2 separate regions of the Homo sapiens genome follow, and region 2 is linked to region 1. Evidence: fine-mapped expression QTL. A gene starts in region 1. The other region holds a variant in brackets. All regions are shown on one strand. Distances are between the middles of the regions. Region 1 holds the start of RHOB (ras homolog family member B). Region 2 holds the start of LOC105373465 (a long non-coding RNA gene).

What was found.
Region 2: its variant is fine-mapped to the expression of RHOB in whole blood (TOPMed, PIP above 0.99).

Annotation. Positions count from the first base shown.
Region 1 is chr2:20,444,645-20,449,644 of GRCh38, forward strand. RHOB (ras homolog family member B) reads left to right here and starts at 2,430. Exons shown (of 1, transcript NM_004040.4): 1 at 2,430-4,796. The coding sequence starts at 2,822. The coding sequence ends at 3,412. RefSeq lists silencers at 2,139-2,388, 2,639-2,848.
Region 2 is chr2:20,422,446-20,427,966 of GRCh38, forward strand. It overlaps LOC105373465 (a long non-coding RNA gene), which reads right to left and starts at 2,500. Exons shown (of 5, transcript XR_001739317.2): 1 at 2,307-2,500; 2 at 383-2,094. RefSeq lists enhancers at 1-261, 2,395-2,554, 2,615-2,664. The variant C/T (reference allele first, on the strand shown) is at 2,551.

The DNA of each region.
Region 1 (5,000 bases):
TTGTTGTAGTGATGTGAATCCAGTCTGAGGGAAGCACAGCACTTCCAGTCGTCTAAATAAGACGTTCCCTCTAGGAAGGGCTCTAGGCTTAGCAGCACTACTGCCTTATTTGATCTGATTTCATCTGTGGAGCCATATGGGGACCTAGCTCTTAACATATGAATTACATGTGAAAACACCGGGGTTCAGTCACAGTTGGCTGCATGGGTTTGCTTAATGATTTTCTTTTTAATGTTTACTTTTTTTTTTTCTTTTGAGCCAGGGTCTCATTCTGTCACCCAGGCTGGAGTGGGGTGTTGTGATCATAGCTCACTGCAGCCTTGCCCTCCTGGGCTCAAGCAATCCTCCCACCTCAGCCTCCTGAGTAGTTGAGATTATAGGTGCAGGCCACTCTCCTCCCCACGCCATCCCATTTTATTTTTCTCAGGGACAGGGACGGGGTTTTGTCATGTTACCCAGGCTGGTCTTGAACTCCTGAGCTCAAACAATTCTCCAGCCTGGGCCTCCCACGCCCAGGGATCACAGGCATGAGGTACTGTGCCCGGCCTGGTTAGATAATTGTTAAAGCGAAGTGTGGAACTGAGGTAAGAAACCCCCAGAAAATTCCACCTGCGTTTCTGAGCATTCGGGTTAATTCCCCACAGTCATTTACTGATCCTTGTAAATGCCAGGCATTGTGCTGGGTCTTCAAGATGCGGAGATAAGACAGAATCCTGGCCCTCCAACAACTGACAGAGACCGAGACAGAGACGGAGACAGGAGGCAACCACCTCCCGGTCATGTGGTGGGTCCCTCCTTTGCTGAAAAAACAGTTTGCAGACATTTCCCATGCAATGGATAGACAGAGCCCAGCCCATGCTGTTAATACTTTAGCACTCATGAGCCCCAGCATATGCAGCTCCTAGAGTTTGCCCCGCTCCTTCCCACCTTCCTGCTTGTGTTCAGGCTGTTTCTCCTGCCCGGGAGCCCTCCCCGACTCCCCTTTCCCCCTATCCCCTTCTTCCTCTTTTATCCGTAGAAATCGGTTGACTTGGGTCTTTCCGGATCACCGGTACTGTCATTTCATGCAGGATCTACAGGATAAATGAGTTCAGTCCTGGCGTGCATCAGGAGGCTACGCCCCAATAGAGGGGACACCCCCTAACCCGCTGTGCCCCATTTGCTAGCCCCTTACTCCTCCCCTCTTCTCCAGCCTCAAGCCTTTTCGTCTGCTCAGGGGTCTTGGGGTGGTTGGATTCTATTGAACCCGGAATATTGTACGTTCTATTGTACAATAGTGTATATTCTATTGTACATTCTATTGTACAATAGTGTATATTCTATTGTACATTCTATTGTACAATAGTGTATATTCTATTGTACATTCTATTGTACAATAGTGTATATTCTATTGTACATTCTATTGTACAATAGTGTATATTCTATTGTACATTCTATTGTACAAGTGTATATTCTATTGTACATTCTATTGTACAATAGTGTATATTCTATTGTACATTCTATTGTACAATAGTGTATATTCTATTGTACATTCTATTGTACAATAGTGTATATTCTATTGTACAATTTATCTCAGACAGTTCTCTGTTTTAAGAACCGGGATCAGAGTTCATAGTGAAAAGAGGGGCCGAAGGGGCTTCTTCCTGTCCGGTAACTTCCTCCAAGTGTTCGAGCCTCGACCTTCCCTTTCCGTTGTCAAGCTTGGGCCACTCCGCACCTCTTCCCTTAATCTTCACCTAGAGACCTAAGCTGGGGGTTGGGAAGGGTAGGGGCGGCGGGACTTGGAAGAGCCAGTTTGCAGCCAGCCGGTCGCCTCTCGGGTCCAAACCCGAGGCTGGCCCACGGCGAGTACCCGGGTGGGGCCCTAAACCACAGGAGGGGCCACCTCCAAAAGAAAAGAGAAAACACTCTTGTTTGGGAACAAAAGTGTGTGTGTGGGGTGTGTGTGTGTGTGTGTGTGTGTGTGTGTCTGTTTATTTAAAAACAAAACCACGTTAAAAGAGCTGCCCCTCCCCCACAGGCCCGACCACCCGCCGGGAGTTTGCCAGGAAGAGGGGCAATTCTGAATGGGAGTCGCCAACGCCCCACTGAGTGAAGCCTGTCTCGGAACCGCTCGCCCAGACCCTGGAGGCTCCAGACAGCCAGCTCCCGGACCCCGCGCGCAAACGCTGCGGCGAAGGAGGGGACCCGGGTACCGCCAGAGCCCCGCAGCGGCAGCAGCAGCGCGGACTCCCCGGTCGCTGCCTCTCCCAGCCCGGCGGCCTGGGCCGTCAATCAAGCTGGCCCTGCCCCGCCCTCGGGCTGCAGGGGGCGGCCAATCAGAGCTAAGCTCCGCAGCGATGAGCTCAGCCGGCTGGTTTCCCATTGGACGGCTATATTAAGAAAGTGGCCGGACTCTTTAAATAGCGGGCGCTAGGGCCGCAGCCCTCATCTGCCACCGCAGTCTGGTTGGAGCTGTTGTCTTGTATGCTCAGCGAGGCCCGGAGAGACCCGGGAGAGAGCTAGGCCGAGTCCACCGCCCGAGTCTGCTGCCCGAGCCCGCGTTACGCACAAAGCCGCCGATCCCCGGCCTGGGGTGAGCAGAGCGACCACCGCCCGGGAGCAGCGCGGCGAGACGCACGGTGCGCCCTATGCCCCCGCGCCCCCACCGCCCCCGCCGCGGCAGCCGAAGCGCAGCGAGAGAACGCGCCACCGCGGGGCCCGGGTGCAGCTAGCGACCCTCTCGCCACCTGCGCGCAGCCCGAGGTGAGCAGTGAGCGGCGAGCGGGAGGGCAGCGAGGCGTTCGCGGGCCCCCTCCTGCTGCCCGGGCCCGGCCCGCTCATGGCGGCCATCCGCAAGAAGCTGGTGGTGGTGGGCGACGGCGCGTGTGGCAAGACGTGCCTGCTGATCGTGTTCAGTAAGGACGAGTTCCCCGAGGTGTACGTGCCCACCGTCTTCGAGAACTATGTGGCCGACATTGAGGTGGACGGCAAGCAGGTGGAGCTGGCGCTGTGGGACACGGCGGGCCAGGAGGACTACGACCGCCTGCGGCCGCTCTCCTACCCGGACACCGACGTCATTCTCATGTGCTTCTCGGTGGACAGCCCGGACTCGCTGGAGAACATCCCCGAGAAGTGGGTCCCCGAGGTGAAGCACTTCTGTCCCAATGTGCCCATCATCCTGGTGGCCAACAAAAAAGACCTGCGCAGCGACGAGCATGTCCGCACAGAGCTGGCCCGCATGAAGCAGGAACCCGTGCGCACGGATGACGGCCGCGCCATGGCCGTGCGCATCCAAGCCTACGACTACCTCGAGTGCTCTGCCAAGACCAAGGAAGGCGTGCGCGAGGTCTTCGAGACGGCCACGCGCGCCGCGCTGCAGAAGCGCTACGGCTCCCAGAACGGCTGCATCAACTGCTGCAAGGTGCTATGAGGGCCGCGCCCGTCGCGCCTGCCCCTGCCGGCACGGCTCCCCCTCCTGGACCAGTCCCCCGCGAGCCCGGAGAAGGGGAGACCCGTGTCCCACAAGGACCCCACCGGCCTGCCTGGCATCTGTCTGCTGACGCCTCTGGCTTGCGCCAGGACTTGGCGTGGGCACCGGGCGCCCCCATCCCAGTGTCTGTGTGCGTCCAGCTGTGTTGCACAGGCCTGGGCTCCCCACTGAGTGCCAAGGGTCCCCTGAGCATGCTTTTCTGAAGAGCCGGGCCTCAGAGTGTGTGGCTGTGTGTCTGTTCGACTCCCCTCGCCCCATTTTCACCCCACCCCCGCCTCTGATCCCCGGGGGCGAGATTGGCGCGGGAGTGTGGCCGCGCCCCATCAGATGTTCGCCCTTCACCAGCGGGAGCTTGATATCCCTTGTCTGTAACATAGACCCCGGGTACTGCGGGAGGGGAGGGCTGCTGGGGAGGATGGGGGGATGTTATATAAATATAGATATAATTTTATTTTCGGAGCTAAGATGGTGTTATTTAAGGGTGGTGATGGGTGAGCGCTCTGGCCCAGGCTGGGCCAGACTCCCGCCCAAGCATGAACAGGACTTGACCATCTTTCCAACCCCTGGGGAAGACATTTGCAACTGACTTGGGGAGGACACAGCTTCAGCACAGCCTCTCCTGCGGGCCAGCCCGCTGCGAACCCTCCACCAGCTACCGGAGGGAGGAGGGAGGATGCGCTGTGGGGTTGTTTTTGCCATAAGCGAACTTTGTGCCTGTCCTAGAAGTGAAAATTGTTCAGTCCAAGAAACTGATGTTATTTGATTTATTTAAAGGCTAAAATTTGTTTTTTTATTCTTTGCACAATTGTTTCATTGTTTGACACTTAATGCACTCGTCATTTGCATACGACAGTAGCATTCTGACCACACTTGTACGCTGTAACCTCATCTACTTCTGATGTTTTTAAAAAATGACTTTTAACAAGGAGAGGGAAAAGAAACCCACTAAATTTTGCTTTGTTTCCTTGAAGAATGTGGCAACACTGTTTTGTGATTTTATTTGTGCAGGTCATGCACACAGTTTTGATAAAGGGCAGTAACAAGTATTGGGGCCTATTTTTTTTTTTTCCACAAGGCATTCTCTAAAGCTATGTGAAATTTTCTCTGCACCTCTGTACAGAGAATACACCTGCCCCTGTATATCCTTTTTTCCCCTCCCCTCCCTCCCAGTGGTACTTCTACTAAATTGTTGTCTTGTTTTTTATTTTTTAAATAAACTGACAAATGACAAAATGGTGAGCTTATGATGTTTACATAAAAGTTCTATAAGCTGTGTATACAGTTTTTTATGTAAAATATTAAAAGACTATGATGATGACATTTATAAAATGGCTCTTGTGGTTTAATAGTGTGTAAAAATACCCTTGTGAATTTGGAACAAGGGAGATATTCTCCTAGGCGAGATCCTTTCTTGCCAACTCCGTTTCCCTTATAGCAAATGTAGTAAATGAGGATGAAGTCCCTTTGAGAGCATGTGGGGGTTGGGTGACCAAGGGAGACCAGGTTGTTCCTGTCACATTCCTAGAGG
Region 2 (5,521 bases), 22 kb before region 1:
GACCTTGATCCATGATGGCTCCCAGATACTCAGAGGATAGAGCCAGCCCCTTGCTGTCAGCACCAACTTCCATCCTTAGAGCTGCCGCCTCTCCTAACCCCCCACTCAGAGTCCTGGCCCTGAGTCTGGCTTCCCCGGGCTGGGAGCCACGATGATCTCTGAAAACACCATCAGTGCTGGGAACTCAGAGGAGGTTTTGGGTGCTTTAGTTCCATGCATCTGCACCAGAGCTCCCTGGGCCCAGGCCCCACCTGATGGGCCCCATTCTCCCACAACATGGGGTCTTGGTTCTGAACCTGCCCTGGGGCTGGCCCCTGCCCCTAGCTGCCTCTTTCTGGTCCCCAGCCCTGCACAGGAAGGCCATCTGCATACCCGACCTTACCTATCATCCATCGGGAAGCTTTCCGATGCTACATGCTCACTGGTTTAAACTGTTGCTCCCCCCACAGCAGGCATCTCAGCCTCCAGCTGTTTGTCAGCTGCTTCACATGGCTTCCAGCTGCTGAGGCTGAAGAAAGCTGGAGGCTTCAGTGGATGCTTCTGCGGCAAAAAGCTTGCTGGGGAGAAGCAAGCAAGCACAAAAGAGCAAGTGCCTTCTCTCCTCCTGACCTCAGTCTCCTAGTGCCCCCTATTGGAAGAACCTGCCAGAACCAGCTGACCTGGGGACATGTAATTTGCACAGATCAAGCCCCAGTAGCGCCAACCTGACAAGTGGAGATCTGGAGCCGAGACTGAATAGCCAATGGACAGCACAACGCCCTGCCCTCCTTTCCTTGCTTGGCAAGCTCTTGCCCCTGCTCCAGGCCTTAGCTCAGGTGTCATTTCTTCCAGGCAGCTCTCTCTGGACCAGTTGTCCCACTGTGGCTTCCCACAGAGACATACACACGCTTCTATCCAGCACAGGATAGAAATGATCTCTTCATGCTTCTATCTCCCTTACTTGGCAATGAGCTTCTGGAGAAAAAGCGACTTTGTCTGTCAAGTTTTGTAATTCTCAGGGCTTACTGCATAGCTCTGTACATCTTTGTTGAGCCATAGCTCCTGCAGTTGTCAGCTCTCCCCGGAAGAAGGTTGAGGAGTAGGTGGAGCAGGATGGTTTTTCTTCAGGCTGTCTCTCATCCTGGGATTCCCAGGCACTGCCCCTTCATTCTCCGACAATAATAATGATTAACATTTGTTGAACCCCTGGCCGGCACCAGGCACAATTGTTCATACTTCCCATGTATCAACTCATTTAGTTTTCACAGATTTATGAACTGAGGTGCAGAGAAGTTAAGCGACTTGCCCAACGTTACACAGTGAGAAAATGGCAGAACCAGAACTTGAATCCAGGTAATCTGGGTTCCAGAGCCTGTGCCCTTAGCCCCTATGTTATTTTGTCCAAGGAGGATAGGAATCAGGAAAATGTGGCAAACTTATAATGCTGATGCCAACAATCAAAATAAGAAGCTTCCAGAAGAAGCTGCATAAGATAGTGTCTCACAGCCATGGGTGGACATGTGACACAATTCAGGGCCCTCCCTGTGGTTGTTCAAGTTGGTAGTGACAGAGCAGAGAAGCTCCTCTTAGGAGGTGAAGTTGGCTCCAGGCTTGCGGAAGAAGAGACTGACTTGCAGAGAGATGCAGGGGTGAGAGGGAATGACAGCGCCTCCTCTCCCTGCCCTGGGTCTTGGGCCTCTGAGCTGGTGAATCCCCCTTTTGCATTGCCTCATTTAATGTCAGTTTCTCACATTTGTGACTAAAGAGGCCTAACTAATACCAACTTATAATTTACAAAGTCCTGTCACAGGTCATTGATTCTTATGCCAGCATGAGGGGGCAGGCAGGGGGTCATATCCCCATTTCCAGAAGTGAAAACTGAGGCTTGGAACAGTTAAGTGACTTGCCAAGCAGCAAGTCAGTGGCAGAGCTGGCTGAGAAGCTGGTGCTTGGCCCCTCAGGCCAGGAGTCTGTCCTCTCCTCCGCCTTGTGCTCTCATGGGAGCTATGGAGAGGGGGTCTGGGTACCACCACCTGCCTCAGTACTCGTGGCTCGGAGCTTTGACCCGGCTGTGCTTCCTCTCATTCCTCTTGCTTTGTCTTGGGGCCTATGGGGCTGGGGGAAACAGGCACAGAGCTGGAGATGGCAGATTCTAGTACTACACACTCCACACCCCGACTTCCCATCCATGGAGCTCACAGGGAGAGGTTCCTGCAGCAGCTACAAGAACACCTCCCCCCCATACCAGCAACCAGGAAATCTCCCAGACAAACTGTGTACCCGGACTGTGGAGGCCACCCACCCCGCACCTCACCCACTCCTGGTACCTCCAGGGCCTGTAGGGAAGCTCCCCGCCCCCAAACCAGCTTTGGGGCTCTCTCTCTGGCCTGGGCCCCAGCTTCGTGGGGGAAGTGGGTGTAGCAGCCTCCTCTGGCCTGGGGGCTGGGAAACCTCAGGCACCTCTGCCTCCGCAGCTGGTAATCCAGCTTGGGCTTGCCAGAGGCCAGTCAGCTCCTCTTCTGAATCTGGATTAGAATCTTCTCGACCCTGGCAGGAAGAGCAGGAGGCCTG[C/T]GGTTGGAGGGCATTTCCTGTTTACTGCTGGTGTCAGTGTTGGTCTGAGAGGTCCACCCTTCTGTGGTTAAGTGAGCCCGGACATCTCCCACCCTCCCTTCAGGCCGACTCACATCCCTCGCCTGGTCCTTGTGAGAAGGTCTCTGCTTCCTCTGGTTCAGGGGAGCAGGTTACCATCTCTGGGTTTGCTCTCCTCCCCTTGCCTGGGCTGAAATGAGTCTTTCTAATGACAGCAGCAGTGGCCTGCCCTGTTGCCAAATTTAGCAAAAAAAAAGAAGAAGAAAGAAAAAAGAGAAAAAGGATGCAGGTTAAATTTGAATTTCAGATAAATAGCAAATAATGTTTTAGTGTTAGTAGTTCCTGTGTATTATCTGCGGATCCTAAATGAAGCTGGAGCCCAGGGAGATGAAGTGTCTTTTGGGATCTGATGATGAGCAACACAGGATTCCAGCCACTCAGCCGAAGACTCTATGCCCCCAACAGTCTGCCAGCCAGTCAAGCTTGGCCACTGTGGCTGGCTGTGTCTATCCTGCTGTGACTCCTGTCCTGTGATCATAGGTGTTCCCCCTGTAGGTTGTGAGATGGGGAGATAATGATTTAACCCCACCTCAAAGAGAGGCAGACACTCCCAAGCAGTGATTTTCAAAGTTTGGTCACACAGCAGCAGCAGCAGCAGCAGCAGCAGCATCCGTGATAATTAATTTTATGAGTCAACCTGACTGGGCGATGGGGTGCCTGGATATCTGGCCAAATGTTATTCTAGGTGTCTCTGTGAAGATGTTTCTGGATGATGTTAACATGATGTTAACTTTTTTTTTTTTTTAAAGACAGCTCACTGCAACCTCCACTTCCCAGGTTCAAGCGATTCTCGCGCTTCAGCCTGCTGAGTAGCTGGGACTACAGACACACACTACCATGCTCAGCTAATTTTTTGTATTTTTAGTAGAGAAGGGTTTCACCATGTTACCCAGGCTGGTCTTGAACTCCTGGCCTCAGGCAGCCTGCCTCCTCAGCCTTCCAAAGTGCTAGGATCATAGGCGTGAGCCACCACATCTGGCTGATGTTAACATTTGAAATGTCAGGCTGAATAAAAATTGTCCTCCCCAGTGTGGGTGGGCGCCATCCAATCAGTTGAAGGCCTGAATAGAACAAAGGGCTGACCCTGCCACAAGTAAGGGAGAATGCCTCCTGCTTGACTGCTTTTGAGCTGGGACATCATTTTTTTTTTAAGTTCTCAGACTCAAACTGAAACATTAGCTCCTCCTAGGTCTTCAGCCTGCAGACTTCTAGACTGGAACTACACCAGTAACTCTCCTGGGTCTCCATCTTCCTGACTACAGATTTAGGATTTGTCAGCCTCCATAATTGTGAGCCAATTTTTTTCTGGAAAGCCTGGCTTTCCAAAGAAATATATATATGCTTATCTTTGAGACAAGGTCTCACGCTGTTGCCCAGGATAGAGTGCAGTGGTGCCATCATGGCTCACCACAACCTTGACTTTCTGGGCTTAGGTGATTCTCTCACCTCAGCCTCCTGAGTGGCTGGGCCTATGCCCAGCTATGCCCAGATAATTTTTGTATATTTTTTTGTAGAGATGGGGTTTTGCCATGTTGTCCAGGCTGGTCTTAAACTCCTGGGCTCAAGTGATCCTCCCACCTCGGCCTCCCAAAGTGCTGGGATTACAGGCATGAAGCACTGCACTGAGCCCAATTTCTTATAAATAATCTTTTTACACACACACACACACACACACACATACACACACACACACACACATGCATCTATTGGTTCTGCTTCTCTGGTGATGCTGACCACAGCATCACCTTGGACCTTGTGAGAAAAGTGCATTTTCTTGGGCCCTGATCAGACCTACTGGATCAGAAACCCTGGGAGCGAGGCTCAGAATCTGAGTTTGGGAAAACCCTGCAGGTGATTCTGCTAAGAGTTAAGTTTGCTGCTTTTAAAATGAACATTAGAGAAAAGGGAGCTCAAAGTCCTTGACTTAGTTCTCTTATCTTTTATTGGAATATTCTTGGGTTTCATTGAGCACCTAATTTGGTTTCATCTACTATAAGTGGGTGTCAAACACTTGGTCTTCTAAATAGCCTGGATTTTGGGGTGAGGGGGGAGTGTAGAGGGAGATGAGGGTTGAGGCAGAGTCTTGAGGATTGCCCGAGCCACACCATCCACTTCCATGTGCTAAGGGATGACTGATATGGTTTGGCTCTGTGTCCCCACCCAAATCTCACCTTGAGCTGTAATAATCCCCATGTGTCAAGGGTGGAACCAGGTGGAAATAATTCAGTCATGGGGGTGGTTTTCCCCATGCTGTTCTCGTGATAGTGAGTTCTCACGAGATCTGATGGTTTTATAAGGGGCATCCCCCCTTAGCTTGGCACTCATTCTCCCTCCTGCTGCCCTGTGAAGAGGTGCCTTCCACCGTGACTGTATAAGTTTTCTGAGGCCTCCGCAGCCAGCCGTGTAGAACTGTGAGTCAATGAAAACTCTCTTCTTTATAAATTACCCAGTCTCAGGTATTTCTTCCTAGTAGCATGATAACTGACTAATACAATGACCTTGGTTTAATCAGGCAACTTTTAGAGTCATATCTTCCTCTAGTCAGCCAGGCTGGAGCTGGCTGTTAATCTACTTGGGCACCCTCTACCATGCTCTCCTCCACTCTACCCGACTTTCCCTGTTTCTAAAACATTTTACTGCTCAGTCCAAGGCTCCTGGTTTTCTTGCTGGTTCTGTCTCCCACTGTATAGCATTCATAAACAAGTCTCTACCACTCTAGGCCTCAGTTTCCTCATCTGAAAGACAAAAAGCTTAAGCCTGGGCTTCCAGGGAAATTGCAAGGATGGAATACGAATTGGGCGGGGGGTGGGTAGTTGTTAAAATTATATATTTACTCCCTTTTGTGGCCACGGACATCTGGAAATCATGTGTCACTAGAAGGGTGGGAAAGGCT